Regions from separate parts of the Homo sapiens genome. Here all the other regions are linked to region 7. The links come from fine-mapping of genetic effects on gene expression. A gene starts in region 7. Each other region holds a variant in brackets. All regions are shown on one strand. Distances are between the middles of the regions.

Evidence for each region.
Region 1: its variant is fine-mapped to the expression of TMEM255B in sun-exposed skin (GTEx, PIP above 0.99).
Region 2: its variant is fine-mapped to the expression of TMEM255B in whole blood (TOPMed, PIP above 0.99). The same link has a PIP of 0.9 or more in lung.
Region 3: its variant is fine-mapped to the expression of TMEM255B in whole blood (TOPMed, PIP above 0.99).
Region 4: its variant is fine-mapped to the expression of TMEM255B in whole blood (TOPMed, PIP above 0.99).
Region 5: its variant is fine-mapped to the expression of TMEM255B in whole blood (TOPMed, PIP above 0.99).
Region 6: its variant is fine-mapped to the expression of TMEM255B in whole blood (INTERVAL, PIP above 0.99).

The regions. Positions count from the first base shown.
Region 1 is chr13:113,793,245-113,797,309 of GRCh38, reverse strand. TMEM255B (transmembrane protein 255B) reads right to left here. Exons shown (of 9, transcript NM_182614.4): 4 at 2,073-2,162. Among named protein-coding and RNA genes, the nearest start is that of GAS6-AS1, 20 kb to the left of the region's middle. The variant G/A (reference allele first, on the strand shown) is at 2,421.
Region 2 is chr13:113,798,789-113,802,853 of GRCh38, reverse strand. It overlaps TMEM255B (transmembrane protein 255B), which reads right to left. Exons shown (of 9, transcript NM_182614.4): 5 at 3,435-3,515; 6 at 1,942-2,027; 7 at 1,042-1,201. Among named protein-coding and RNA genes, the nearest start is that of GAS6-AS1, 15 kb to the left of the region's middle. RefSeq lists an enhancer at 820-1,694. The variant A/G (reference allele first, on the strand shown) is at 1,791.
Region 3 is chr13:113,664,130-113,668,194 of GRCh38, reverse strand. GRK1 (G protein-coupled receptor kinase 1) reads right to left here and starts at 976. Exons shown (of 7, transcript NM_002929.3): 1 at 110-976. The coding sequence starts at 808. The variant T/C (reference allele first, on the strand shown) is at 1,547.
Region 4 is chr13:113,735,902-113,739,966 of GRCh38, reverse strand. It overlaps GRK1 (G protein-coupled receptor kinase 1), which reads right to left. Exons shown (of 7, transcript NM_002929.3): 7 at 2,231-4,065. Among named protein-coding and RNA genes, the nearest start is that of LINC00552, 13 kb to the left of the region's middle. The variant G/C (reference allele first, on the strand shown) is at 1,606.
Region 5 is chr13:113,806,321-113,810,385 of GRCh38, reverse strand. All of the region lies in intron 8 of TMEM255B (transmembrane protein 255B), which reads right to left. Among named protein-coding and RNA genes, the nearest start is that of GAS6-AS1, 7.3 kb to the left of the region's middle. The variant G/C (reference allele first, on the strand shown) is at 2,447.
Region 6 is chr13:113,816,042-113,820,106 of GRCh38, reverse strand. It overlaps TMEM255B (transmembrane protein 255B), which reads right to left. Exons shown (of 9, transcript NM_182614.4): 9 at 3,112-4,065. The region is part of intron 1 of GAS6-AS1 (GAS6 antisense RNA 1); the gene reads right to left. It also overlaps LOC124903220. Among named protein-coding and RNA genes, the nearest start is that of GAS6-AS1, 2.5 kb to the right of the region's middle. The variant C/A (reference allele first, on the strand shown) is at 2,131.
Region 7 is chr13:113,756,765-113,760,829 of GRCh38, reverse strand. TMEM255B (transmembrane protein 255B) reads right to left here and starts at 1,604. Exons shown (of 9, transcript NM_182614.4): 1 at 1,515-1,604. The coding sequence starts at 1,560. RefSeq lists enhancers at 885-1,386, 1,943-2,444.

The sequences.
Region 1 (4,065 bases), 36 kb before region 7:
CATTTTCCTCGATGGCATCTGAGCTCCAGTGAGTGCTGTCTGCGCATCCGTCCTAAAGTCAGCCCTGGGAGGCCCCGGCCAGGGGCCCTGCTTTGTTTCTAACCAAGAGGCTCCCACACTTGCCTAGATGCATGCCCCGCGTGGCCCTCCAGAATGGACAGGCGCCCGAGGTCCGGAACCTGGGGACACCCCCGACTGCGGTCAGAGACTGGACCCTGCTCCTCGGCGGGGCCACGGCCACGGGCGCCTGGAGCACAGTGGAAACCACCGTCTGGAAGCCATAGAATAGCAAGTCACCCAGCCACCCGCTGAGAAAGCTCCCATGACGCACCTCCGTGGGAGTGTGTGTGTGCGCGCGAGTGTGAGCATGTGGGCCGTGGTGTGTGCATGCGTGCGCACGCACGTGTGTTTTGTGAATGTGCTCCCACACTTGCCTTCATATAATGAAACCGTTGGGGCAGACAAAGGCCTAACACCAACCTTCAGTGCCTTTCAGTGTGATTTATGGAAAAAGAGGGAGAAACAATCACAGGTTTGGTCTGAGAGTTCATGACAAGCAATTCGGCTGCTCCCGGGGACCAGCTGACGCCCAGATGGCGAGAGCCCACCCAGGAGCCCAGCCAGGGAGGAGGGGGGATGGCGCAGCCCACCGGAGGCTGAGGACGCACCTCAGGAGGACACAGAAACGATTCCTTGGCCTGCGACTTTAGAGAAAACCTGTTCATTTAGAGGTGAAAAGAGCGTGGTGTGGTGTGTATGTGTGTGTGGTGTGTGCTCTGTGTGGTGTGTGTGCTGTGTGCTCTGTGTGGTGTGTGTAGTGTGTGTGGTGTGTGCTCTCTGTGGTGTGTGTGGTGTGTACTCTGTGTGGTGTGTGCTCTGTGTGGTGTGTGCTCTGTGTGGTGTGTGAGGTGTGTGCTCTGTGTGGTGTGAGGTGTGTACTCTGTGTGGTGTGAGGTGTGTACTCTGTGTGGTATGTGCTCTGTGTGGTGTGTGAGGTGTGTACTCTGTGTGGTGTGTGAGGCGTGTGCTCTGTGTGGTGTGTGAGGTGTGTACTCTGTGGTGTGTGCTATGTGCTCTGTTGTGTGTGTGCTGTGTGCTCTGTGTGTTGTGTGCTGTGTGCTCTGTGTGTTGTGTGGTGTGTGCTATGTGCTCTGTTGTGTGTGTGCTGTGTGCTCTGTGTGTTGTGTGCTGTGTGCTCTGTGTGTTGTGTGGTGTGTGCTGTGTGCTCTGTTGTGTGTGTGCTGTGTGCTCTGTGTGTTGTGTGCTGTGTGCTCTGTTATGGTGTGTGTGCTGTGTGCTCTGTGTGTTGTGTGCTGTGTGCTCTGTTGTGTGTGTGCTGTGTGCTCTGTTGTGTATGTGCTGTGTGCTCTGTGTGTTGTGTGGTGTGTGCTGTGTGCTGTGTTGTGTGTGTGCTGTGTGCTCTGTGTGTTGTGTGCTGTGTACTCTTATGGTGTGTGTGCTGTGTGCTCTGTGTGTTGTGTGGTGTGTGCTATGTGCTCTGTTTTGGTGTGTGTGCTGTGTGCTCTGTTGTGTGTGTGCTGTGTGCTCTGTTGTGTGTGTGCTGTGTGCTCTGTGTGTTGTGTGGTGTGTGCTATGTGCTCTGTTTTGGTGTGTGTGCTGTGTGCTCTGTGTGTTGTGTGCTGTGTGCTCTGTTGTGTGTGTGCTGTGTGCTCTGTGTGTTGTGTGGTGTGTGGTGTGTGCTGTGTGCTCTGTTGTGGTGTGTGTGCTGTGTGCTCTGTGTGTTGTGTGGTGTGTGCTGTGTTGTGTGTGTGCTGTGTGCTCTGTGTGTTGTGTGCTGTGTGCTCTGTTGTGGTGTGTGTGCTCTGTGCTCTGTTGTGGTGTGTGCTGTGTGCTCTGTGTGTTGTGTGGTGTGTGTAGTCTGTGTGGAGAGGGAAGTTCGTTGTGTAGGAAATGAGACTTACTGAGAGGAGAGACAGTCACTGGCAACCCCCAGCGTGGAGACTGACGGTGAAGCCGTCTGAGCTGAGATCTGCAAAATGAAATTGTACTTTTTTCACGTCGACTCTTTCAGCCCCGGAAAGCGACTGTGCACACAATGACAATGTACTCACAATGTGCTGTGCTGCAAATACGCCGTCCACGATGGCGCAGCAGAAGGCGGCCACCACGCCAAAACTGATAAACACGATCGCTGCCACCAGCTGCAACAGAAGGAGAGGTGTGGGTGCCCAGCTTTTACCAACCCCGGTTTTCAAACGCAAACCAATTCAAAGTCCCAGCTCGAGGTCGGGGCTTCTTTCACAGAACTGCCTCTTCTCACCTCTACCTTTCGTCCTATGACTTCCAGCCCTGGCCAGGCCGGACTCCACCCTGCGGGTCGTCCTCACGCGTCTATTCCGCAAGACCCACCCAGGCGCCTTCTGCACGGAAGGGCGTTGCCATCCCCGGGCCCTCGGCAC[G/A]CGCCTCTGAGAAGCAACCCCAGACGGCAGGGCGTGTGCCCAACCCTAATGTGTGCTCATCACACGCACACACATGTGCATGCTTGACACAGGCCTTTACAGTCATCGGATCAGCTTCACACACTGTCGCACAACCTGCTTTTCCTACCTAATGGTCTTGGAGCTTGGAGCCAGGAATGGTTTATAGTGCGTTAGTTAACCAGTGCACTCTGATGGATAGTTAAACAGTTGGCAATTTCTTGCCACTACAAACTCTGCTATAAAGCGGGGTGTCCTGCCCTAACCCTAAAAACTAGCAGGGAGTCTCCATCCCCGTGGACCCCTGACCAGAGGGCGGGTGCTGTCATTCTTTTCTCGGTGCCTGGCTTGGTACCACGCTGGGCAGAGCAGACCCTCCTGAATGGCCGCTGAAAACTGTGGCCCCGAGTTGGCATCTCGCTTGGTTCCGTCCCGATGGATGAGTTGTCGGCTCGGGAAAGAGGTCCCAGTGACAAGCAGAACCCATCGGTAACAGCAGAGGGAGGGCCTGTGGCTCGGGCACATGGTGCTACACAGGGACAGGGGAAGCCTGAGTCTGTTCGGACCTGTCCTGCGCACCAGGCACGAGCGTGGGTGCTCGTCCAGACTCAGAGCAGAGCCGACCGAGCAGAGTGGTCTCCTCCTCACACTTGCAAAGACGCCCGGCAGAGGCACCCCGACCTTCCTTCTCCCTGGGGAGCCAAGTATGTGGAGAGAGGAGTTCCATCGACCGTGACCCTCACGTGGAACTGCTGTGGCCTCTTCCCCCGATGTCAGCATGGCCCTGTGTGTCCATCTCTGCCCCAGGCTGCACACCTATCGTCACCCGCAACCCAAAGAGAAGCCAAATCCAGCCCATCTGCCAAGGCTCTAACGCTACCCGCTGGATTCGCAGGTGGGACGCATTCCCATCAGGCCCCACAGCAGCAGAAGGCGGGGGGTGGGGGCTGGCGGGCCCAAACCTTTCAGGCCATGGACCAGTGGTGGCCGCCTGCCCCTCCCTCTCCTTCTGACCCTCCACACCACAGGCCCGCTGGGGGTCCTCCCTGGAAGCCCCATCAGAGCCGGTCCAGGGCGCACCACGCTGCTGGCCAAGCCCTTTTGCGGAGGAAAGTGCAGCTTCTTTTTTAAACAGTGGGCACCCTCACTGCGAGTCTGGGTGTTTTTATCCTTCAGCAGAGGAAGAGCTGTCAACTGGGGGCTTCCTGGTGAGCCCACGCTTGGCAGTCACCGATGCCACCTTGCATTAAATGTGAGTGATGAGGCGGTAGGGCTGGGGCAGCGGGCCGGAGAGCGAGTCCACAGAAGTCAGTGCGTCCTTGGGTGGGTCCCAGACCGGCACGGTCCCTGCGTGAGTCACAGAGAGATGGTTCTCCCACCTGCTGGCACCTTTCTTCTCAGGTGGGTCCCAGACCGGCACGGTCCCTGCGTGAGTTACAGAGAGATGGTTCTCCCACCTGCTGGCACCTTCTTCTAAGGCAACTTTCCTCCACAGCAGATCAGACGAGACATTCTGAGAGCTCAGACATCAAGCACGTGCCCTTCCAAAATACATACTTTAGGTTTACGAGAAGAGGTAGGTCTGAACAAAGTCCGGGCAGTTAGCAGGAAGCTGGCCGACACCCCT
Region 2 (4,065 bases), 42 kb before region 7:
GTGTTGGTGTGCGGGCGTCTGGGGGCCCAGGGTGGGGCTTGGGGGGCCACTGGGTGGGGAGCCAGAGGGCTGGACCTCGGGATGCCAGGGTCACTCTCAGCTTCACCAGTTTTGTCTGGAAGCACAAAAGTGTTGAGAAAAGGAGGAGCTGAGAAGCAGATGGCAGGAGGGTTCCCAGCTGAGCTAATTTTTAGTCATGGACAGCCTCTGGGACGAATAGGGCATGGAGAAGCCGCTCAGGAGTGTTTTCGCTGCCTCGCTGGGCCGGGTCTGGCCTGCATGATGTGCGTCTGCCTGGTGCTGCCAGGCCTCCTCATGTGGGTGCAAGAGGGGGCGCCCCTCGTCCCTGGGCTGCCGTTTGGATACTCTGGGGGTTGGGGCTCCCTCACTCCTGGCTGCCCATCCCTTACAGCTTCTCTGCAAGTTCAGGGGGCGGGGTTTGCTGGCCGCACACCACGAGAACATCTGGTTTGAAACAGGCGCCAGGAGAGGGCAGAGGAGGGAGAAGAGAGAGGACATCCGGCCCGGGCCAGTGATTTCCCTGTGGTTTCCCGGGCGAGGGCCGGCCTTTCCAGGATGGGTCCAGCCCACCTCCCGCGAGGGGCCCCTTCCCTCCCTCCTCCTGCCCAGGCCAATCCTGGCTGTATGGGTCTCGCCTCTGGGGTTTGCTAAGGCATCAGCTCAGCCCCAGCCCAGACCTGCCCATCTGAAGCCCCAGGCAGTTGCTAATGATGGGAGCTTAGTGCACAAGGGCTGGGCCTCCCTCTTGGAGCTGAACATTGTTTCTTGGGGACGGCTGTGCCCACCTCAGCGGGGAGGCAAGGATTAAATCAGGTGATTCTTGTGACAGGCTTGGGACAGGACGGCCCCGAGGTGAGTCGGTGCACGCCAGCTGTCACCCTGACACCCTGCTGACAGACGCATGGGCTTCAGTGCCCCATCTGTAAAGTGAGGGCTGGAGGCCCCCCAGCCCACCCCGGGGAAATGGACCCGGAGCCCCGGCTCCCAGTGAGCAGCGGGGGTCCCACCAAGGGGCCTCACCATGTCCTTGAAGGCCCCCAGGACGGCGGCGGTGATGATGCCCAGGAACAGGCCCAGGACGTTCAGAACTGCAGAGGCCCAGAGCAGGCGGTACAGGTGCAGCACGTCCTGGCAGCCGCTGACGCCGATGAACTCATAGTAGGCGGGCGAGGGCTCTGCGCTGCACAGAGAGGGCACCATGGCGTCACCGCACGAGGCAAGTGACCACCCGCAAGTTAAACTTGTGTCCTCTGGACCTGAGCCCTGCAGGGCTGGGGGAGGAAATCAGGGCTGGAGCCCAGTCAACGCCCATCCCTGCACTGCTCTGGGAGATCAAACCTATGTCTGATGGGATTGGCCTGTGAGGCTCCCCACCTGGGGCCCACAGTGGCAAAGAGCGGCAACTGGGCCTGGCGGGCCCGCCCCTCCGCCTCGATGGCCTGGCAGGACGGGTGTCTGGGCCCCGGCTGAGCCATCTCTGTCTTCACGCCAGGATGGGAAGGCCGTCGGGGTCACGGGCCCCTGTCCCAAGAGGGGGCCATGCCTGGGGCCTCAGAGGCCAGGCCAGGTTTAAACTCTCGCCCGACACACACGGGCTGTGTCCTCTTGGGCAGATCAACATTTCAGAGCCTCTGTCTTTTCATCTGTGAAATGGACTCAATGTCCTTTCCTCATGTAAACATCTAAGGAGTAAAGGAGACGATGTAGGTGCAGGGGTGTGGGGGGGGTGATGTCAGGAGCAGAAGGATGGAGGCCTCACCCCTGCAGGC[A/G]CATACGGGGGTTCCCAGCGCCCCTCACCTCCCTCAGGTGTAGATATAGGGGTCCCCAGCGCCCCTCACCTCCCGCAGGTGTAGATACGGGGGTCCCCAGCGCCCCTCACCTCCCGCAGGTGTAGATATGGGGGTCCCCGGTGCCCCTCACCTCCCGCAGGCATAGAGGTCACAGCAGTAACAGGTGTTGCTTCTCACCTTCAGCTGGCACTTGCCGTCCAGGGAGTGACAGGTGACCTGGGGCAGAGAGGCCTTGTCAGGTCACATGCCGGTGCCCACCACCTCACCCACCCCACCAAGGGCAGGGCTGCCTCATGGGAGCTGGGAGCGGCCACTGAGGCCCAGCCAAGCAGCTGCCTCCCCCGACTTTCCCCCGACTCCAGACACAGAGGCTTGGGGGCTCGGGGGCCAGGACCCTTCCTGCAGGAGGGGTCAGGGGCACAGGCTGGTCCCAGAGGCCGGATAATCGGGGCTCAGAGGAGAGGCCTTGCTTCTCCATGATCCCAGGAGCAGAGGGAAATATCAGGGTGCGTGGGCAGAAGGACAGAGCCCAGGAGGCCTTCGGCGTGGGGTGCACAGAAGCCTGAGAGCCCGGAGGGCGGCAGAACAGGCCCCGTCCCAGGGCGCTCTCCCCCCAGGCTTGAGCACTGGCAGCCTCAGAAGAGACACCTGCCACCTCTGTGTGACAACCTTGAAAGCCCTGGCCAGGGGACACCCCCCAACACACACACACACACACACACACACACACACACACACACAGAGGACGCCTCCCCTGACACACACACACAGGACACCTCCACACACACACACACAGGATGCCTCCCCCCCACATACACACATGGCATGCCTCCCGCCTACCCCCCCCCACACACACACACAGGACACCTCCACACACACATACACATACACACACAGGACACCTCCCCCCTAAACACACACGGGACGCCTCCTGCCTACCCCCCCCCACACACACACACATAAACACACACACACACACGATGCCTCCCGGCAGCTGCTGGAGAGTCCCAGACAAGCTGGCAGGTGCTGGCCACTGAGAGGGCCTCCAGCTCCTCCTCCTCTGACACGCGTGCTGAGGATGAGAGGCTGCGTTTAGTTAAAGCCAGGAATCCACACAGGGCAGGTGCGAGACACACAGAGAGCGCCGTCACAGAGCTGTGCCCTCCGACGGTCCTGGCGAAGGCGGCGGCCGCCCGCGGGTCATTACTCCCCGCATCTCACTCACCTGGAAAGAGAAATGAGGTCACACTGCCGCTGTCGGTGGCTCAGGGAAATCCAGAAGTTTCTCGGACACTGTAAATGTATTATCCTTGCTTCTTATTGCAATAATTAAATTAGAAAAATGCTAATTGGAAGAGCCATACAGAACTGGACACGTGCACTCTGAGACTGTTGTGATTTAATGAAGCAAGTCCAGAACTCTGACTCCAGAGTGAAATACAGCACATCGAAATGTCAAGGTCCCAAACACAGGGGGCATCAACGGTTCACCAGCTGCAGGGGTGACCCCCAGGAACTATTAGAATCAAAATATTCAGACCACGCCTATGTGCAGGGAAAACCGCGTGGGGTCGGCGGGGTTAGCTGAGCAAAACCCACATGAATCTCAGTGCTCCTGCTCACCTCTGTCTGGTAGACATCGTACAAGTACCCCACCCCACTGGAGTAAAACTGGCATCTTCCCGTGGTGAGGGGCCTCGGTTCCTAGAGAAACAGATAAACACAGATGGAATAAAACAGGTGCCTCCAGGCGGGAGAGGCCAGAGGCAATTTCAGGCCTGTGGGTCTCAGGCTCAGGGCCTCAAGGACCAAGGCCAACACCAACTTGAGCCTCCCAGACACAGAACACAAGATGGGAGACTCCACGCTCCCTGCAGAGCAGCTGGGCTGCTGCATCCAGGAGGCCAGACAGCAGAAAGCCCCATGGGAGGGTACCTCGGGCCATGCATATTCTCCATCAGTCAACAAGGGCAGCAGAAGGGAGACAGGTGCTTGGCCTTTTGAGGGGCATCCCTACCACCCCACATCACAGGTGTTAGGCTCCTGCATCGTTTCATAAAAGAAAATATTGTCTCTTCTACTAGGAAGGTAGCAAGAAGGATTTCAGACCAATAAACTCATCCCTCCAACCATCCAATCATCCACCCACCCACCCAACCATCCATCCAATCATCCAATCAATCATCTGTGCATCCACCCATTCTTCCTTCCATCCTCTACATCTATCTATTCATTCATCCATAATGCATCCATC
Region 3 (4,065 bases), 93 kb after region 7:
AGCTGTTAAGGGCCCCGGAGCCGACAGTGACCTGGGGGCCCTCTGCACCCTGCCGCCCCATCCCTGCACCCTGCCACCCCATCCCTGCTGGCCGGGTCGCGCTGCTCACCTGGTAGCCCTTCCTCTTCTTCAGCCGCTTCTTGTTCAGCTTCTTGCAGGCATACAGCTTGCCGGTCGCCTTCATCTGGCAGGCCGACACCTCCCCGAAGCCCCCTTTCCCTAGGACCCTGAAGTCCAGGAACCAGTCCTCCCCCATGGGCTGGGCTTCCAGCCACTTCCACTGCAGGAACCTCAGGAAGTACAGGCTGCCCAGGTACTCCTGGAAGGGGGCTTGGCCCAGGTGTGCCAGGGTGGCCTGCAGCAGGGGCTGGAAGAGCCCGTCCTGGATCTCCACAGGCCCCTCCTTAAACTTCGCCACTATCCCCTCATCCAGGAAGCTGCAGAAGAGTTTGGCCTGGGGGTCCAGGTACTGGGCCAGGATGGTCTGGGCCTTCTGTGGCTGGAGGTCATTGTCTGCCGTGTCATAGTCCTCGATGTCTTTCCAGAGCTCCAGGGCCGGCAGGTGCTTCTCTGCCGATTGTAGGAACTGCTGAAAGAGCTTCTTGCCGATGGGCTGCTCCAAGCACACACTCTCAAACTCCAGGCTGAGGCTGTCGCGGAGGGACTCACACTTGGACAGCGGGGGCAGCTTGAGCTTGGCCAGGTACTTCTTGTCCCGGGAGGGTTGGGAGCTGCTGCCGTCAAAGCTGCCTCGGGCGGCGATGAAGGCAGAGTTGGCCACCACGGTCTCCAAAGACCCGAAATCCATCCCGGAGCTTCCTGCCCGCTTCAGGCGTGAGGGCCCATCAGCCGAGGCCAAGCCGGGAGCGTTCACAGACAGAGCAGGCCTGACTGCTGCCCTTGGCCTGTGGCCCGTCCCTGCCCTTGCTGGACGAGAGAGACGCCCTGGCCCTGTCGAGGGTTCCTGGGGACCACTGGGAAGCCCCTGGGAGCCCGGGGCTGACACAGCACCAGGCTAAATCCCAGCCGGGGTCACGGAGGACGCTTAGGAGTGGCAAGAAGGTGCTAGAAAAAGACAATCCCCTGAGCTGCTTGGAATCCGATTAGATCATTCTGCCCGGCCCCTTCCTCCAAGGGGCCGCCTCACTTTTCCCCTGAGAAGGACAAACAACCACCAGGCTTCTGGGGCCCCTGGCTGGAGAGGCACTCAAAGCTCTGTTCTGAGCTGCTCCATCCAGCCCCTGGCTTCAGCAGCCAGGCTCAAGCCTGCTGTTTCCTTGGGATGTGGGCCTGACGGAGAGGATGGAGCCGGAAGAAACCGTAATTTACAAAGGCTGTTTTTCCCTATTTTTATTTTTAAGAAAATAGCAAATGAGAAAGAAAACCACCTGATAATAGGAATTTAGAGAGGAAAAGAAGCCCACAGTGACCAGCTTCCTGGGGGTCTGTAGGTGAGACCACCAGCGCTTACTGAGGGGTCAGTTCCCAGTCATTTGTCTTCTTCTCACCTGGGGTTTGCAGGCAAGGCAGGATTGTCAAGAGGCAG[T/C]TGCTGGTGACACCAGGACCAGGGAGCAGAAGATCCCCGGAGCTACATCAAACCAAGGCCCCACTCAGAGGGACGCATATGGAATACAGCTGGGGCTCACCTGGGACACACCTGGAATCCACCTGAGAAACACCTGGGGTACACCTGGGGCACATCTGGGACACACCTGGGACAGCTGGGACACACCTGGGGAACACCTGGGACACACCTGGGACAGCTGGGACAGCTGGGGAACACCTGCAACATACCTGGGGCACACCTGAGACCTGGGACAGCTGGGACAGCTGGTGAACACCTGGAACACACCTGGGGCACACCTGAGACCTGGGACAGCTGGGACAGCTGGGGAACACCTGGAACACACCTGGGGCACACCTGAGACACACTTGGGACAGCTGGGACACACCTGGGGTACATCTTGGACACACCTGGGACAGCGGGGGCACACCTGGGGCACACCTGAGACACTTGAAATGCAGCTGGGGAACACTTGGGACCCACCTGAGACACACCGGGGGCACATCTGGGGCACACCTGAGACACACCTGAGATACAGCTGGTGCACATGTAGGACACACCTGGGAGAGCTGAGGCACACCTGGGATATGCCTGGGGCACACCTGAGACACCTGAGACAGCTGGGGCACACCTGGGACACACCTGGGATGCACCTGGGGCACACCTGGGACACACCTGGGATGCACTGGGGGGCACACCTGAGACACCTGAAATGCAGCTGGGGCACTTGAGACCCACCTGAGACACACCTGGGGCACATCTTGGACACACCTGGGACAGCTTGGGCACACCTGAGACACCTGAAATGCAGTTGGGGAACACTTGGGACCCATCTGAGACACACCTGGGGCACACCTGGGATACAGCTGGTGCACACGTAGGACACACCTGGGACAGCTGGGGCACACCTGGGATATGCCTGGGGCACACCTGAGACAGCTGAGGCACACCTAGGACACACACCTGGGGCACAGCTGGGACACACTGGAGACAGCTGGGGCACACCTGGGACAGCTGGGGCACACCTGGGACAGCTGGGGCACATCTGAGACACACCTGGGATGCACCTGAGACACACCTAAGACAGCTGAGGCACACCTGGGATACAGCTGGGGCACACCTGAGACACACCTGGGACAGCTGGTACACACTTGGAGCACACATGGAATGCAACTGGGGCACACCTGCAATGCAGCTGTGACACACCTGGGACAGCTGGGGCACATCTGAGACAGCTGGGGCACACCTGGGACAGCTGGGGCATACCTCGGACACACCTGCAACACACCTGGGACACACCTGGGGATGGTCACACCAATAGGATTGTCAGCTTCATGAGGGCATGGCCCTGCCTGTCTTATTCCAGCACACAGTAGGTACTCAATAAAGGTTTGGAGAAGAATGAGGAGGAATTCAGCAGGGGATTGGTTCCAGCTCACACAGGGAGGAAGCAAAGGGTCGCAGAAAGGAAGAATGCCGGAGCATAGAGAGGTGGAGACTGTCAGCCCACCCCATTCCACGTGGGAGAAGAGGCAACTGTGGGAGGGCACTGGGGGCTGCACCTGGCAGGGTCTACAGAGGCCGAAGCGAGGGCCCGCAGACCGAGCCGACGTCCCCACGGTCTCCTGAGGGCTTTGGCAGGTGGATCACGAGTAAATATTTGAGGTGAGTGATATCCCATCGTTCACCAGGAGCCCTGCACGGGCCCAGCCCTGCCCTTCACAGCAGTGACCTTGGGCGGATCACGTTAACTCCTTCCTGCCTGCTCACCCAATGGGGCAACTGTGGTGCTTTGTGAAGTGTAGCCGTCTCTGCTGACGTCTCGCTGCCTGTCCTGGTTCATGCCTCAAACAGCTACACACATGAATCGCCCGGAGACCTTGCTGGAATAAAGAGTCTGCTTCAGTGGCCAGGTGGGCCAAGACTGCACCTGTAACAAGCTCACAGGTGGTGCTGATGCTGTGGAGGCGTAGGGTCTGAGGAGGATGGCTTCCTGTTGGACTGGGGGCCGTTCCACCTGCAGTCATGTTGGGAAGCGTTCGGTTAAATAAAGTTAAATATGTTAAACAAGCAAAGTTAAAAATATGTGAAACGTGTCCATCACAGGGTTTATTCAGTGATTTCAGAGTGAACGTGTCTCTCAAAGAGAAGTAAAGTATGTCGTTTCCCAAATTCATTTGGCCCTGAAAATCCCTTTTTAATTAAACTCTTTATTCTGTGATAATTGTGGATTTACATGCCATGTTAAGAAACAATCCAGAGAGATCCTGTGTACCCTTAACTCTGTCTCCTGTAATGATGACATCTTGCCAAGTAGCGAGGATATTGGCATCCATATGGCTGAGACAGAGGCCGCCTCCATCCACGGGACCCTCCTGTGCTGCTCACAGATGCACCGAAGTTCCCCCAGCCCGCCCTGCTCAATGCCCGGCAACCACGACTTCTCTAAGCACGTCACATGAATGGAGTCAGACACTATGTAGCCTTTCAGGACCTGCATT
Region 4 (4,065 bases), 21 kb after region 7:
CAGGGGCCTGAAACCCCAAGACTGCCCACAACAGAGGGCCCAGATGAAGAGTCCATAGAGACATCTGCCCGGAGGGCACCGAGCCACGTGCAGCAGCACCAGGCAGGCAAGAATAGCCCTGGATGCCTTCCTTCATCCCAGCTCAGCCCTGAAGAGCCAGAGGCCGAGGCTGGCCACAGGAAGCAGGGCCACTCTGCAGGCAGGTGGGCATGAGACACATGCACCGCCACCGTCAGACACTGCAGCCCCGCGGGAACGGAGGCACCAAAGCTCATCGCATGTGGAGCTGTGACCATTATGGGGCCACGCACACTGAGCCCCTGAGAGGAGGCTGGTGCTGCCTGGGTGGGGAGCAAACAGGCGGGGGCAGGCAGTGTCAGAGCTCCAGAACTGGGCAGGGCCCGCCGGGGTGTCTCCGTAGGATCATTGACTCAGCATTCGTGATGTATTTTCTCCATGGGACACAAAGATTTAGAAGTTTTTAAAAATAAAGTGACAAGAGGCCGGGCACCGTGTCTCACGCCTGTAATCCCAGCACTTTGGGAGGCCGAGGCCGGCAAATCACCAGCTCAGGAGATCGAGACCATACTGGCTAACACGGTGAAACCCCGTCTCTACTGAAAAATACAAAAAATTAGCCAGGCATGGCAGCGGGCGTCTGTAGTCCCAGCTACTTGGGAGGCTATGGCAGGAGAATGGCGTGAACCCGGGAGGCGGAGCTTGCAGTGAGCCGAGATTGCACCACTGCACTCCAGCCTGGACGACAGAGCAAGACTCCTTCTCAAAAAAAAATAAATAAAAAATAAAGTGACAATAGGGCTTTCGAATGCCTTGTATGAATGCATGGGGTGAGCATGAGTTTCATCGAGGGGTGAAAACACCACTCAACTGACCCAAGAGATGGCAGAAGCCAAAAACGAAGCTGCTTTTGTGGTTTTATCCCAACAGGTTGCCTGTGCAGTGGAACCACTGCTGATCTTACAGATAAATATATAATCTGCAACAGGCTTGCCAGAGTTAACCAAAAGAAAACTGCGGAACATCCCATTAAATCTGAATTTCAGAAAAATGATGAATCATTTTTTAGGTCAAGTATGTCCCAAACACTGCATGGGATAGACTTACACTAAAAAATGATTCCTTATTTATCTGAAATTGAAATTCATTGGGATGTCCTGTATCGTGTCTGGCAACCCAGCCCTAAAACAGGCAGAGGGTCTTGCTGGTGGGCCTGGGGGGGCCACGGGGCTCTTTGGCACCGGGAGCCAGGCTTCCCTCCACTGCTGCGACCACTCATAGCCCCTCCAAGCCCCCTGATCCCAGTGAAGCCAGGATGAGATTGCTTACCTGTCCAGGGCCATAGGAATGCAAGGCAGGTTAAAATGGGTTTAAAAAATCAGAAATGGAGTCTTTCATGTTCCAGAGTGTATGAAGTGAGACTGATAGCCATTACCTAATCGATGTGTAACATTCTAGAAAACAAAACAGGAGGCCGAGGCGGGCGGATCATCTGACGTCAGGAGTTCAAGACCAGCCTGGCCAACATGGTGAAACCCCATCTCTTACTAAAAATACAAAAACCCAGCACTTTGGGAGGCTGAGGCG[G/C]GTGGATCACGAGGTCAGGAGATCAAGACCATCCTGGCTAACATGGTGAAACCCCATCTCTACTAAAAGTACAAAAAATTAGCCAGGCATGGTGGCAGGCACCTGCAGTCCCAGCTACTCGGGAGGCTGAGGCAGGAGAATTGCTTGAACCTGAGCTTCTCGGGAGGCAGAGGTTACAGTGAGCTGATATTGTGCCACTGCACTCCAGCCTGGGTGACAGAGAGAGATCTGTCTCAAAAAGAAAAGAAAAGAAAAGAAACAGAAAGGGAGGGAGGGAGGGAAAGAAGGAAGGAAGGAAGGAAGGAAAGAAAGAAAGAAAGAAAAGAAGGAAGGAAAGGAAAGGAAAAAAAGAAAAAGAGAAAGAAAGAGAAGGAAAGAAGGAAAGAAGAGAAGAGAAAAGAAAGAAAGAGAAGGAAGGGAGGGAAGGAGGAAGGAAGGAAGGAAGGAGAAAGAGTGGGCACGGAAATCTGTCCTGCAGGCCGCTTCCCACGGGCCTCCTCCTGTGCCTGCCTGCGCCTGCTCAGGTGCACCTGGATGGGTAGTTTTATGTCAAAAAGCACTGGACGCCCCACAGCTCCTCCTGAACATCCCAGGTCTCAGAAGTGTCAGACGCTCAGAGCCAGGACAGGAGGAGGCCGGGAGGTTTATTTTGCAGTCCAGGTTTGCTTCCCAAGAACAGTCTGCAGGTGCATGAGGCAACTTGACAGGACATATGAAAGTCTCCACAAAACCAGACGATGTGGAGTTCTGTTGAGATCTGTGGGAAGACGTGCTCCTCACCCAGGGTGTGGCCGACGTGGGTTCTATGGGAAGACATGCTCCTCACCCAGGGTGTGGCCGACGTGGGATCTATGGGAAGACGTGCTCCTCACCCAGGGTGTGGCCGACGTGGGATCTATGGGAAGACATGCTCCTCACCCAGGGTGTGGCCGATGTGGGATCTATGGGAAGACGTGCTCCTCACCCAGGGTGTGGCCGACGTGGGATCTATGGGAAGACATGCTCCTCACCCAGGGTGTGGCCGATGTGGGATCTATGGGAAGACGTGCTCCTCACCCAGGGTGTGGCTGACGTGGGACCTATGGGAAGACGTGCTCCTCACCCAGGGTGTGGCCGACTTAGGATCTGTGGGAAGACGTGCTCCTCACCCAGGGGCGTGGCCTATCTTCCCTCCAGAAGCTCTAAAACCACATAGGAGGGAGTTGGGTCCCCATTTTGGCTGCAGCCAGCAAATCTCCAAAATTGTGGATTGCCAGGGTCCTCTTCTCCCCAACAGGAAGAGGACGACCTGGCAGCCTGAGGACTGTGAGGGCATAGGCCCTGCCCACTGCAGCACTGACTCTCAGGCAGCTGTCTCTGCCATTTCTGGGAGAGAGGCCGAGACCCACCAGTCCAGGCTACGGAGGATCCATCTCTTCCACTCCCTGCAGGACGTGACACCCCCAAGTGGGACCTTCCCAAGCCACCCTGTCTCCATCAGTCACATCATCAGCCACTTGCCGCGGCCCCTCTCACCAAATTAGAGTAGACAGGGCTTCTTTCTACCACCAGCTCTGCCCCAAGGCTCACGGGGACGTCCTACCATCTTCTCTCCCCGTGACCACATGTGGCAGGGTCAGGCTTCTTCTCCCACTGGTACAACAGTGGCCGGGGCTCAAAGGAAGTTCTTTCCTAAAAGGAGCTCAGAGGCCCTCTCTGGAAAGGAGTCCTCAGGCCGCCCATCACCACTGCTTCCCTGCGGCTTGGATGCACTCCCTCTGAGCCGGCTGCTGAGGCCATGGAACCCAGGCCAGCACCGCCGGCCCTCAAGAGGGAGTGTGTCCTGGAGGCAGTTGCAACAGAACTAACTTCCTGCAGTTAAAACACACAAAGCATTTGGGGAACCTTCAGTGTTCAAAGTGCAGTTGGAAATGCCAGGTGCATTGTGGGTGGGGCCGAGCTGTATGAGAAGGTGGGCTGTGAGTGTCTTCCCGGGCTATGGCTTTAGGACTCCAGTGCTGCTGCTACTGGGAACACAGAGAGGGGTTGCAGCAAGGAGCTCTGTCCCTATGCACAAGGCCCGTGGCCTGAAGTGTCCCCTGGGAGATGAGACGGACCAGCCCCAGTGGGGAGGAGGGTCAGAGAGCAAACGGTCCTGGCTTTGCCCGCCAAGAGCAGCTGAGGTGCTTCCGGGACTCAGGGTCAAGACAGAAAACATTTTCAGCTCCCCAGCTCAGGGGTGGGAACTTTGCACCAGCTGCCGTCAGCTGGACACCCTGAGATAAGGAGACCCCAAGATGCACTGAGACCCCCAGACTCCACACCCGCTCCCCTCCTCCCAACAGCCCAACAGAGCCTGCGCCTGGCAGATGTGGACCATGGCACCCCGGAGTGCAGGGGACCATGGTGCCCCAGTGTGCAGAGGACCACGGCGCCGCAGGGTGCAGGGGACCATGTGGCGTGCAGGCCACCAGCACAGGG
Region 5 (4,065 bases), 50 kb before region 7:
TCCAACTGCTAACACACATCTTAATTCTTTTCTTTTTTTCCCCTTAAATTCTAGGGGGAACTTCTAATCAAATTTTAAATAAATAAAGCAAACAAACTCCTTCTAAGAAATAACACAGGAAGAGTTTTTCAAACTCCAAGCTACCAGATGTGCTCTGTGCTCCTCTTGCCCCAGCCTGCAGGGTCCCATGAGAAGCCAGCTGCCTGTCTGAGCCTGCGTGTTCAGCATCCCCAGAGAAGCCAGCTGCCTGTCTGAGCCTCTCCCTGGAGAGCTCTGCACTGCAGACGCCCTGGGAGCTAGCAGGACCTCTGGATCCTGACAGCAGAATTTCTGCACAGGTGTAGGTAAGGCTGAGAATGGGGCCCTTCCTCAGAGGGACTGCAATGTTGAGGTTGACAGCCCAGGCTCATGGGATCCAGTGGTTCAGGGACACCTGCCAACCTCATTTCTTTCTTCCCCCGAAACTCACACAGGTTTCTGGCCACAGGCGACAGAGTGAGACACTAGGGAACATTCTCTCAAGTCTGCTGGGAGCTCCCAACTTCCAACTCTGTAGCACCCACTCTTCTTCACAGCAGATGAGCAGTTAAGGAAACTAAGGGGTAAACCCCAGGACCACAGATAAACCCCAGGAACCCATGGAGTAACTCCCTAGGAACCACCGAGTGAACCATGGAGTAAAACTCAGGAACCACGGAGTAAACCCCCAGGAACCACGGAGTAAAACTCAGGAACCACGGAGTAAACCCCCAGGAACCATGGAGTAAACTCTCAGGAACCACGGAGTAAACCCCTCCCCCCAGGAACCACAGAGTAACCCCTCCCCCCAGGAACCACAGAGTTAAACCCCCGGGAACCATGGAGTAAACCCCCAGGAACCACAGAGTAAACCCCCAGGAACCAGAGTTAAACCCCCAGGAACCACAGAGTAAACCCCCAGGAACCACAGCATAAATCCCCAAGAACCATGGAGTAAACATCCAGGAACCACAGAGTAAACTCCCAGGAACCACAGAGTAACCCCTCCCCCCAGGAACCACAGAGTTAAACCCCCGGGAACCATGGAGTAAACCCCCAGGAACCACAGAGTAAACCCCCAGGAACCAGAGTTAAACCCCCAGGAACCACAGAGTAAACCCCCAGGAACCACAGCATAAATCCCCAAGAACCATGGAGTAAACCCCCAGGACCATGGAGTAAACATCCAGGAACCACAGAGTAAACTCCCAGGAACCACAGAGTAACCCCTCCCCCCAGGAACCACAGAGTTAAGCCCCCGGGAACCATGGAGTAAACCCCCAGGAACCACAGAGTAAACCCCCAGGAAACACAGCATAACCTCCCCCCAAAAACCACAGAGTAAACCCCGAGGAACCATGGAGTAAAGCCCCAGGAACCAGAGTAATCTCCCCAGGAACCACAGAGGTAAACCCCCAGAAACCACAGCATAAATCCCCAAGAACCACAGAGTAAACCCCCAGGAACCATGGAGCAAACCCCCAGGAACCACAGCATAAATCCCCAAGAACCAAGGAGTAAACCCCCAGGAACCACGGAGTAAACCCCCAGGAAACATGGAGTAACCCCCCCCCCAGGAACCACAGAGTTACACCGCCAGAAACCACAGAGTTAAACCCCAAAGAACCACGGAGTAAACCCCCAGGAACCACAGAACAAACCCCTAGGAGCCACGAAGTAAACCCCCAGTAACCACAGAGTTAAACCCTCAGGAATCACAGAGTAACCACCCAGGAACCACGGAATAAATACCCCTGGAACCATGGAGTAAACTCCCAGGAACCACGGAGTAAACACCCCAGGAACCATGGAGTAAACCCCCCAGGACCACAAAGTAAACCCCCAGGAACATGGAGTAAACCGCCAGGAACCATGGAATAAACCCCCAGGAACCACAGAGTAAACCCTGGGACCACGGGGTTAACCACTGAATGACAGGGCCCCCCTAGGGACAAGCCCTGCCCACGAGTAATCTCACAGGGGAAGGGAGGGCATGTTTCTTAGTAACGGGGCAGGAACTCATCTTCTGCTGTGATGCCACGTCCTCCCCTGCACTTCATGCCTGGCAAAGCTGCTGGGTGCAAGGAAGGTGATCTCTTTAAATTGTCCTTTTTATTAACTGCTCAAAACCTCCCCCACCAAGTCACTGTTCCCCATCCCCCACTGTCTCAAGTGGGAGTATTTTCTGCTGCTAACGACTTCCATGGAACACCCTGAATATTTTCTCTCCATCTCTGTGGAAGCAGGGCCCCTCCTCCATTGTTCTTCTGAGGAGCACATGAGCCTCATCTGATTTGCCATCTCTGAAATCCAATTATCAGCGTGCGTATATTAAGCTCCCACACATGCTGGCCTGGCACAAAGGCTGGCTGGGCCATCTGAGGGCCCCAGGCCTCCCCAGAGGAAGAGGGGAACATCCACCCTTTGC[G/C]TAAACCCAGAGCCCCAGGGTGGATGAGGATGGAGCACCATGGGGATGAAGTGGATCTGCCCCTGTGCCCCCCACGTCCCGTAAGCCCGCGTGTGACGGGGAGGACCACCCCCCACATCCCGTAAGCCCTCCTGTGATAGGGAGGACCGCCCCCCACATCCCGTAAGCCTGCGTGTGACGGGGAGGACTACCCCCCACATCCCATAAGCCCACGTGTGACAGGGAGGACCACCCCCACATCCCGTAAGCCTGCGTGTGACGGGGAGGACCGCCCCCCACATCCCGTAAGCCTGCGTGTGACAGGGAGGACCACCCCCCACATCCCGTAAGCCCACGTGTGACAGGGAGGACCACCCCCACATCCCGTAAGCCTGCGTGTGACGGGGAGGACTACCCCCCACATCCCGTAAGCCTGCGTGTGACAGGGAGGACCACCCTCCACATCCCATAAGCCCGCGTGTGACGGGGAGGACCACCCCCACATCCCGTAAGCCTGCGTGTGACGGGGAGGACCACCCCCCACATCCCGTAAGCCCACGTGTGACAGGGAGGACCACCCCCACATCCCGTAAGCCCTCGTGTGACGGGGAGGACCGCCCCCCACATCCCGTAAGCCTGCGTGTGACAGGGAGGACCACCCTCCACATCCCGTAAGCCTGCGTGTGACGGGAAGGACCACCCCCACATCTTACACCTCCGTGGGGCTCACAGGCAGGGAGGACACACCTGCCTGAGGGAGTCACCAGCCCCTCCCTCCACAAAGCCTCACTGTCTCCAAGGTCCCAAGTCAGAATGCAAACTTGGAGAAGCCGGGCCCCTCACAGCCAGAGCTTCAGACAGCCGGGCCCCAGCACCAGGGCGGCCCAAACCAGCCCTGGAGCCAGAGAAGAGGAAGGGGCTGATGGAACCACGTGTTGTCTCTCCTCTGGGGCCCTGAGGGGCAGCGGCTGAGGTTGAGGATGGAAGACAGCATGGGCCACCGAGGCTATGCTCTGGGCTGCACGTTCTTGGCACCCATGCGATTCCAAGTCTGTGTCTGTGTAGAGCCGCTTGGGGAGCACCTGCAGGCCCAGCGTCCCTGGAGATACCTCTGCCCCTGCGGGCCTCCTCCTTCTACCCCTGCGGGCCTCCAGTTCTGGGCTTGGCAAACTTCCCACGGGAGACCAGGAGGCCAGAGAGAAGCCCCCAGGACAGGGCTGTGGCCCTGGGGGCACGGTCCCTGCCATGATGGGGACGTCCCTGGGGCAGGGGCAGGAGGCTTGGGGAAGGATGAAGCTGCCTGTGGCACCAAGCAGACGCGCCTGCCTGCAGGAGTGACCACTGCAGGGTCGCTGGCAAAAGCTCCCGCCATCTGACCCTGGGGACCACATCTTCCCCCGTCACAGAAATGGAAAAGATGTTTCCAGGCCAGACCTCCAGCAGGGGCCTTGTGTTCCCAGGGAGCAGGGCCCCAGCTTTATATTCGAAGTGAGAGGGGAGACTGAGGTATGAGGTGCAGGGATCCCTCCACGAGGAGATGTTGTCAGGCCCTGGTCATCTCCACTGAGCCCAACAGCTGCTGTGTCCCGGGCATGGCTGAAGGTGGCTGACCCAAGCAGGCCCTGAACGCGAGGGACCCC
Region 6 (4,065 bases), 59 kb before region 7:
GCCTCAAGTGTGTTCTGTTGAGAAAGGGAAACTGCTTTCTCTGTGTCGGTCTGGGGTAGAGCTTGCCAGGAGCAAAGCCAGCCCTGCTTCCCGCGTCCCCACTGGCAGGGTCCCCATGTCCCTCAGCCTCAGCTTCCTTGTCTGCAAGGGGTGGAGCGGTCACTGGTGCTCTCTGACCCCAGCAGGCCACAAGTCTGCAGGGAAGGTCAGGGCAGCCGGAACGCGGCCAGGCAGGTGCCTGAAATGCAGTCGGGACCCTGCCTGCCTCCTGGAAGGATGTCGGAGCCGCAGCTGGTGGGGGCCACGGAGTCACTGCTTCTCCTTGGTCCCAAGGGGACGACCAAGACTCATGGCTTGACGCTCCCGTGGGACGCGGCCACCTGTGCTCGAGCCTCTGGGCCAAACATGGGTCCCCAGGGTGGATGCGGTCACTGCAGGGGCCACACGGGGGATCAGGGAGGGTTTCAGCTCTGAGGCCCAAACCAGGATTCCACTTTAAGACCAAACCCCCACCCGTGCTCGGAGCTCCCTGGGCAGGAGTGAGACGGGGCAGCTCGGAGCAGCCCCACCTCCCACCAGTCAGTCCCAGAGCTGCGCCCACCGGGCAGGACAGGCTGTGCGTCGGGGCATCTTTGCCTCTGCCTGGCTGGGGTCAGCACTTGACCTAGAGAAAAGTCGGGTGGAGAAGAAGGATAGAATCCATGAGAACCCATCCAGGGATAAATCGCCACAAATGAACTGCAAAGAGGTTTCTAGAAAGAGGCCTGTGGCTTTGAAGGCCACAGGGGAGGCCCCGCTGGCTGGACTGACAAGGTGGCATCGGCCGAGTGGGCTCCTGAGGGGCAGCCTCGGGCCGGGAAGGAGCGGCTTCCCTCTGGCCCCCGGCCTGACGGCTGTGGAATGGGCAGAGCTTCTCCAAGGCTCGGGAGCCAGCAACACTCATGCCCACCTGGAGGGACCCTGCCCGCCTGGGCCGAGCTCACCCCACGGATGGACGGCCAGCCAGGCACCTTGCCAGGGGCCATGCACAGGGGGCCCCATCCCCTGCCGTCCAGAGCCGCCCAGCTCGTCTACGCTGGAGCCTCCAGGCCCTGGTGGTCCCTGAGGGTCCCTGGCAGGCCCACCCTGTGTCTCTGGGGCTCTTGTTGACCGGTGCCAGTTATGGGCTCCTCGGGCCACATCCCATGACCCTGCGCCATCGTGGGCATGATGCCACTTGCTCTGGACACGCCGGGCAAGGGCCTCTTGTTCTCCCCAAAATCTTGGCAGCACCTGGGCAGAAGTTCTGTTGATTGAGGGCTGCAGCCTGAATTCAGGACTTCAACCTAGTCTAAGAGGTATTGCAGGCAACTTTCGCTTCGGTACCGTGAGAAAATAGTGACGGGGGAGGCCCTGGCCTCAGAGGGCAGACGTCAGGCTCCTGCCGGCTCCCTTCGGAAACGTCCATCTGCCGCCAGCGGCCCCGCGTGTGTGTGACGGCTCTCGCCAGCCTCGCCCAGCAGCACGTGGACCTTCCGCAGGCAGATGCGCTTTCTCCACTCGGGCCGGGACAGATGGCCACCGGCTGCTCACACGGTCGGGGACCCGCAGCCCAGGCCTCCACGCTGGCTCCGGGATGTCCAGGTGCTGGTTGGGCTGAGGATGGTCGGGCCCAGGGCTCGGATCTGGCCATCAGCACAGAAGCCCAGTTCTGGGAGGCCCAGGCGTGGATGCTGACGGCTCGCTAAGCAGGCCAACTCGTCTGACCCCGACGATGCCAGAGCCAGCTGAGCAGAGCTCCAAGAAGCCCGTGGAACACAGCCCCCTGGGCCCCAGGAGAGCCCTGCACTGCCCACTGCACGGCCTCACACGGCCACAGGGGCCACAGCCGCACGCTGGGATCCCAGGCTCCAGCCCGGCACCGCGGCGTCCCTCAGATCCCGGCCTCCAGCCCGGCACCGCGGTGTCCGTCAGATCCCAGCCCGGCACCGCAGCGTCCCTCAGATCCCGGCCTCCAGCCCGGCACCGCGGCGTCCCTCAGATCCCGGCCTCCAGCCCGGCACTGCGGCGTCCGTCAGATCACATTGGTGGGTGCCCCCCAGTGCTCTCCCATAATGTTCCCCAGCCGGCTGGGAGCCTGCTCCTGCCCAA[C/A]CTCCATCCTCCCCAAGTCAAGACGGCCAGGAGCAAAAACAGGCAACGGCCAGTCTCAGGGACAGAGACGTGGGGAGGCCCCCACAGACACAGGCTACAGTCACCAGTGTCCTCAGGACACAACCCTCCGCCTGGGTTTCTGCTCTGCCTCCAGACGAATCAGGAACTTCTGTTTCCTAGTATTGTTTTCTTAGAGTTCCGGGGGTGCCAGAAGTTATAATAACCACTGTCCCAAACAAGCAAAACCAATGGTGCTAGGAATTGCAACACAGAGGCCCAGCCAGGCCTGTCACGTTGGCGACCTGGCACCCTCCACAACCAGGCATGTCTGGGGTGTGCAAGAGGATGGGAAGACAGAGCACGTGGTGCAAGTGCTGGTGCCCTGGGGAGGCAGGAGGGATGTGCCCCTTAGAGGGAGGAGGGATGTGCGCCCTGGAGGGAGGAGGGATGTGCCCCCTGGAGGGAGGGGTGATGTGCCCCGTGGAGGGAGGGGGGATGTGCCCCCTGGAGGGAGGGGGGATGTGTTCCCTGGAGGGAGGGGGGATGTGTCCCGTGGAGGGAGGGGGGATGTGTCCCGTGGAGGGAGGGGGGATGTGTCCCCTGGAGGGAGGGGGGATGTGTCCCGTGGGGGGAGGGGGGATGTGTCCCGTGGGGGGAGGAGGGATGTGTCCCGTGGAGGGAGGGGGGATGTATCCCGTGGAGGGAGGGGGGATGTGTCCCCTGGAGGGAGGGGGGACAGCCCTGACTCTGGGCTGGAGAGGAGGAAGGAGGTTGGGCATGTGTTTTGCAGGTGGGGTCCTTTGATGTGGCCGCGTCCTGTGCACAGCAGATGCAGCATCGCCCCCTCCTGGACACCCAGCCTCATGACAACACGAAATGTCTCCAGAGGTTGGCCACTGTCCCCTGGGCCCGGGCACCTCTGGGGAAACACTGCTCTAAGCAAGAAGGAACGTTTCGTCCTACTTCACGTAATACGGCAAATATGAACATCAGATTTTTAAATGCCAACGGAAGCATAAAGCAAATGTACAGCCGGGCTAATCCCAGCACAGCCCATTTGTAGGAGAAGCTCCAGCCACAGCCCCTGCCTGCAAAGCAAGAAGGGTCACCTGCCCCAGGGTCAAGGACTCCACGAGGGGAGAGGGGGAGGGTCCGCTCCATGGTGCCCTTGTTTCAAGCACGTTTTCTGCTTACTGAATTCCATCAGTTAAAAGGTCTAGGAAACAGAAAAGGAAGTGGCGCGTGTCGCCGTCTGAGGATCTGCTGACGGGCCCCGGCCTCGTGGAATCCTCTTCTGCCTCTGTGGGTCTCCAGAGTTTCGGAGGCATCTCTGCTCCCACCGCGGGGTCTGGTGGCCACGGGGTCCCCAAGTCTGCAGGAGGAGCTGCTCTGTGTGGCGAGGGTGATGACCATGGCTCTTGTTCACTGAGCAGGGCCGGTGGCCAGCACTGTCCAAGTCACCAGTGCAGCCCCATAAGGCCATCTTCACAACATCCTTGGGGCCCGTTTCTCCCACTCCCGTTTCCATGGAGATGTGATTCACACAGCAATAGCCACGCCTCATGAGTGCAGAGCATGGGTCGGTGGTCAGTCCATCCACGGGGCCGTCCACCCATCACTGCCATCTGGCTCCCGGACACTCCTCTTCCCACAAGAACTCGTGTCCCTGACCAGTGACTGCACCTCTCCCCATCCAGAACACGCTTAGAACACACTTGCCTCCCCGAAAAGAACTCGTATCCCTGACCAGTGACTGCACCTCTCCCCATCCAGAACACGCTGCAAACACGCTTGCCTCCCCGAAAAGAACTCGTGTCCCTGACCAGTAACTGCACCTCTCCCCATCCAGAACACGCTGCAAACACGCTTGCCTCCCCGAAAAGAACCCGTGTCCCTGAGCAGTGACTGCATCTCTCCCCATACAGAACACGCTGC
Region 7 (4,065 bases):
CCAGATACCCCAAAGCAGAAAGACCATAACCCACCCCCGATACCCCAAAGCAGAAAGACCATAATCCACCCCCAGACACACCAAAGCAGAAAGACCATAATCCACCCCCAGATACCCCAAAGCAGAAAGACCATAATCCACCCCCAGATACCCCAAAGCAGAAAGACCATAACCCACCCCCAGATACCCCAAAGCAGAAAGACCATAATCCACCCCGACACACCAAAGCAGAAAGACCATAATCCAACCCCAGACACACCAATGCTTTATACATTTTAGTAAAAGACCAGCTCCAAACAAAAAGACCCATAATCCTACCCAGATACACCAATGTTTCATATACTAAAAAGACCAGCTCCAAGTATTGTTTTAAGGTTTAAAGTTCTTTGTCAGAAGAAAATCTAAGTCAGATGCTATTTTTAAACATTAAGGCATTCTAATAATGATAAAACTAGTTAATAAATAATAATAATAGTTATCATTATTAAACACCAATAGACTAATCCACATTAATACATTTGACCATAGAGCATTTTGCTTTAGATTGGAAGGCATATAGTGGTTTCTTTTAGAAAGAAGCCAAATTATTTGATTATTTTAAGTAACAGTAATTCGTCCGGTTCCGAACGATGCCGCAGTAAAAGGGTTGTGAGGTTAATCCCCAGAAGTTTGTGTTGGATTATTTCTGAGGGAGCGGCAGAGCCCCCTAGACACCACTCCATCCCTCCCTCCAGCCGTCAGGGCTTCACTTTCTAGGGAACTCTGTTTCTCTTTTGTTCTGAAATCTGCCCAGCCCTCTCCCCCTCAGGAAGACACCCGGCATCCTTCCAGTCCTGGCCACTTCCCGGCAGAGCCCCCGAGCCCGGCTTGCGAACTGGTGAACACGCAACAGGTTTCCTGTTTTCCCAGCCTTTGCCTGGCTCCGAGGCTGCAGCGGGCTTGGTCTGGGAAGTGGAAGAATTGGAGATTCCGTGAACACACCGGGGAGAAACACGAGAGAGGGGCGAGCCGAAACCAAGCAACACTGTCCAGTTCTGTGAGCGCCTCTGCACGTTCAAACAGGAAAAGGCTACCTCGCTCTTCCAAACGAAGTTTTCCCGGAAAATGGTGTAGGTTGGAATAAACGGAAGAGATGGGGAAGGAGCGCACTTTGGGGCGCCTGTTCCTCATAATAAAACGTAACAGGGAGAGAGAGGCCAAGAGGAACGGACACAGAGTCAGAGAAAGGCAAAGACTGAGGAGGCAGAGACAGAAAGAGCGAGAGAGACAGAGACAGAGACAGAGAGAGAGACAGGGAGAGAGAATGAATGAACGAACCGGTAGGACGAACGCCCGACCCCAGTGCGAAATGCAAAGTGTTCCAAAGACAGAGCTCGAAGGAGGCGGAGGGACCAGACCCCGTGCCGCGTCTCCGCGCAGGTTCCGCCCGGGCCGGCCGGGGACCTGTAGTCCCAGCCCCGGGGTCCCCACGCTCCCCCGCAGGAGCCGAGACGAGCCCCCAGCCCCGCGCTCACCTGCGGGGTCCAGCAGGCCCAGGGGCCCGGGCACCGGCGGCTGCATCCCGAGGCCCCACCCGGCTCTCCCGGGGCCACAGCCACAGTCCCGCCGCCAGGAGCCGCCCTCGCGGCGCCGCCCCTTCCCCGCCCCCTGCACCTCCCCGCGCTCCGCCCGCCTCGCGTCCTTCCTCGCTCTACTCTCCCTTCTCCGGCGTTTCTTCTCCTCCCTCCCCCGCTGCGCCCGCTCCCCCTTCTCCCCTCCAGCGGCCGCCTGGTTTCTGGAAATCAGGACGCCGCGGCCGGGAGTGGAAGCCAGACCCCAGATGGAAGGTGCCTGGAGAGGACCCTGCGGACTCGGGGTCGGAGCCCCGGCCTGGGACGGTGACCCCGGGCCTTCCGCCGCTGGCGCCACGCTCAGCCCTTGGCGGTGCCGCTGAGTGGGTCACCACGGGTTCGCCTCCCCATTGGCCGGTGACGGAGCTCCTTGGGGCTACAGGGCCAGCCAGCCCTTGATCTCTGGGTTCAGAGGGTGGTACATGGTGTTACAACCCAGTCTGCGAGGAACGAGTAAATGAGGAACAAACGCAAATGAGTAAATGAGGAACAAACGCATCTGGCACCTCACTCAGCAGCCCCGAGGCAGGGCTGACCCGCCTCTCCAAGGCCTGCGTCTTTGTGTCCACAGCACTGAAGTTGTTCTGAGTAAAATCTGCTGCTGGAAAGAAGGGCAAGGAAACACGGGGCCAGAAAGGGTGCCTCGTACAGCAGCAGGAAAAAATAAAGATCCTTCTAAACGTATTTTTAACATCTTTGAGTCAAGGACATCAGCGGTCCCGTCACAAAAGAAGATGCTTGAACGATCAATAAACTCAGCCCCCGGAATTAGGGGAACGCTGTGGGAACAAGAGGATGCGTTTCACCCTCATCCTATCAGAAAACCCCAAGGGTCAAACAACTTAAAGAATGTTAATGAAAACGTGGGAATCTGCATTCACCGCTGGGATCACGCATGGTGCCACCACTTTGAAAGCAACCTTTAGGAAAATTGAAGCAAGTAGATGACAAGCCAGAAAGAAAGCATATCTCTTTCTAGATATGCCCAAGAACACAAACATAGATCTGCTCCTTCGAGCCAGGAGCCGTGGTTCTCAACCCCGGCTGTCGTTAAAGTCATCCAGGAATGTCTTTAAAAGAAAAAACATTTCTGCAGCACTGAACCCAGACCAGATCAATTGAACCAGAACTTCTGGGAACAAACTAATAGCTAAGAATTCCCTAGTCATTCTAATAGGCCATCCACTGTGAGAGAGAAACTACCACAAGAAGTATGCATGTGCTAGAAGATGCGTACAGAATATTCCTCACAACACTGTGTGTCCAAAGCACCGGACACACCCTGAATATCCAACACGGGGAGAAGCGATAAAGAAATGGGCATATACAGCGAAATACCACATGGCAGTTAAAATAAATGAGAGCTACATGGATCAATGTGGATAAATGCCAAAAACAGAACGCGGAGCAAAAATGCAAGTGCACAGTACGGCAGCGAGTACGACAGCAAGTACGGCAGCGAGTATGGTACCATTTATATAAAGTTTTAAACCATGAAAATTAACACTGTTCACTCAGTGAGCCTCTCAAGACTTACTAAACATCCGCGATATACCAGACACTGTTCCAGGTACTTGGGATGTATCAATGAGCAACGTAAACAAGGATCCTGGTGGGGAAGTGAGGCCATGAATAATAATACAATAAACAAGAAAAATGCACAGCATGTCAGAGGGCAACATGCTATGGAATACACACACACATATACACATACACACATGCAGACATACACACATGCATGCACATACACACATACACACACATGCATATATACACATGCATACATACACACATGCATGCATGTGTGCATACATACATGCACGCATACATACATGCACATACACACATGCATACATGTGTGCATACATACACGCACACATACATACACATACATACACACATGCATACATACACACTTATACGTGCATACATGCACATATGCACATATACATACACACATGCATGCATACACACATGCACACACATACACATGCACACATACATGCACACACATGCACATACACACACATACACACTTATACATACACACACATACACACATACATACATACACAGCCAGGTAATGCAGGCCACAGAAAAAGGAAAGAGAGGTAAAGAAACAAAATAGAAAGTATAGTGTGGGAGAGGGAGGGAGCTGTGGTTTTTAAGTAGTGAAAAGAGAGCTTGTTGACAGGTGATGTTGAAGACCAAGCTTGAGGGCGTGGAGGTGGTTGCTCACCCAGACATCTGGGGCAGAGGGTCTGAGGAAAAGGAACCTCCATGCAAAGGCCCTGGGGTGGAGCCATCCAGGCCCAGGGGGAGCAGCAAGGAGACCAGGGTGCCAGAGGCTTGTGGGGACCAGGTGGAGGACATCAGGGGTGAGCCGCAGGGCCTCTGGCCTTTGCTCCGAGTGATGTGGGGGTTATTGGAGGGTCCTACACATAGGATTACTGGA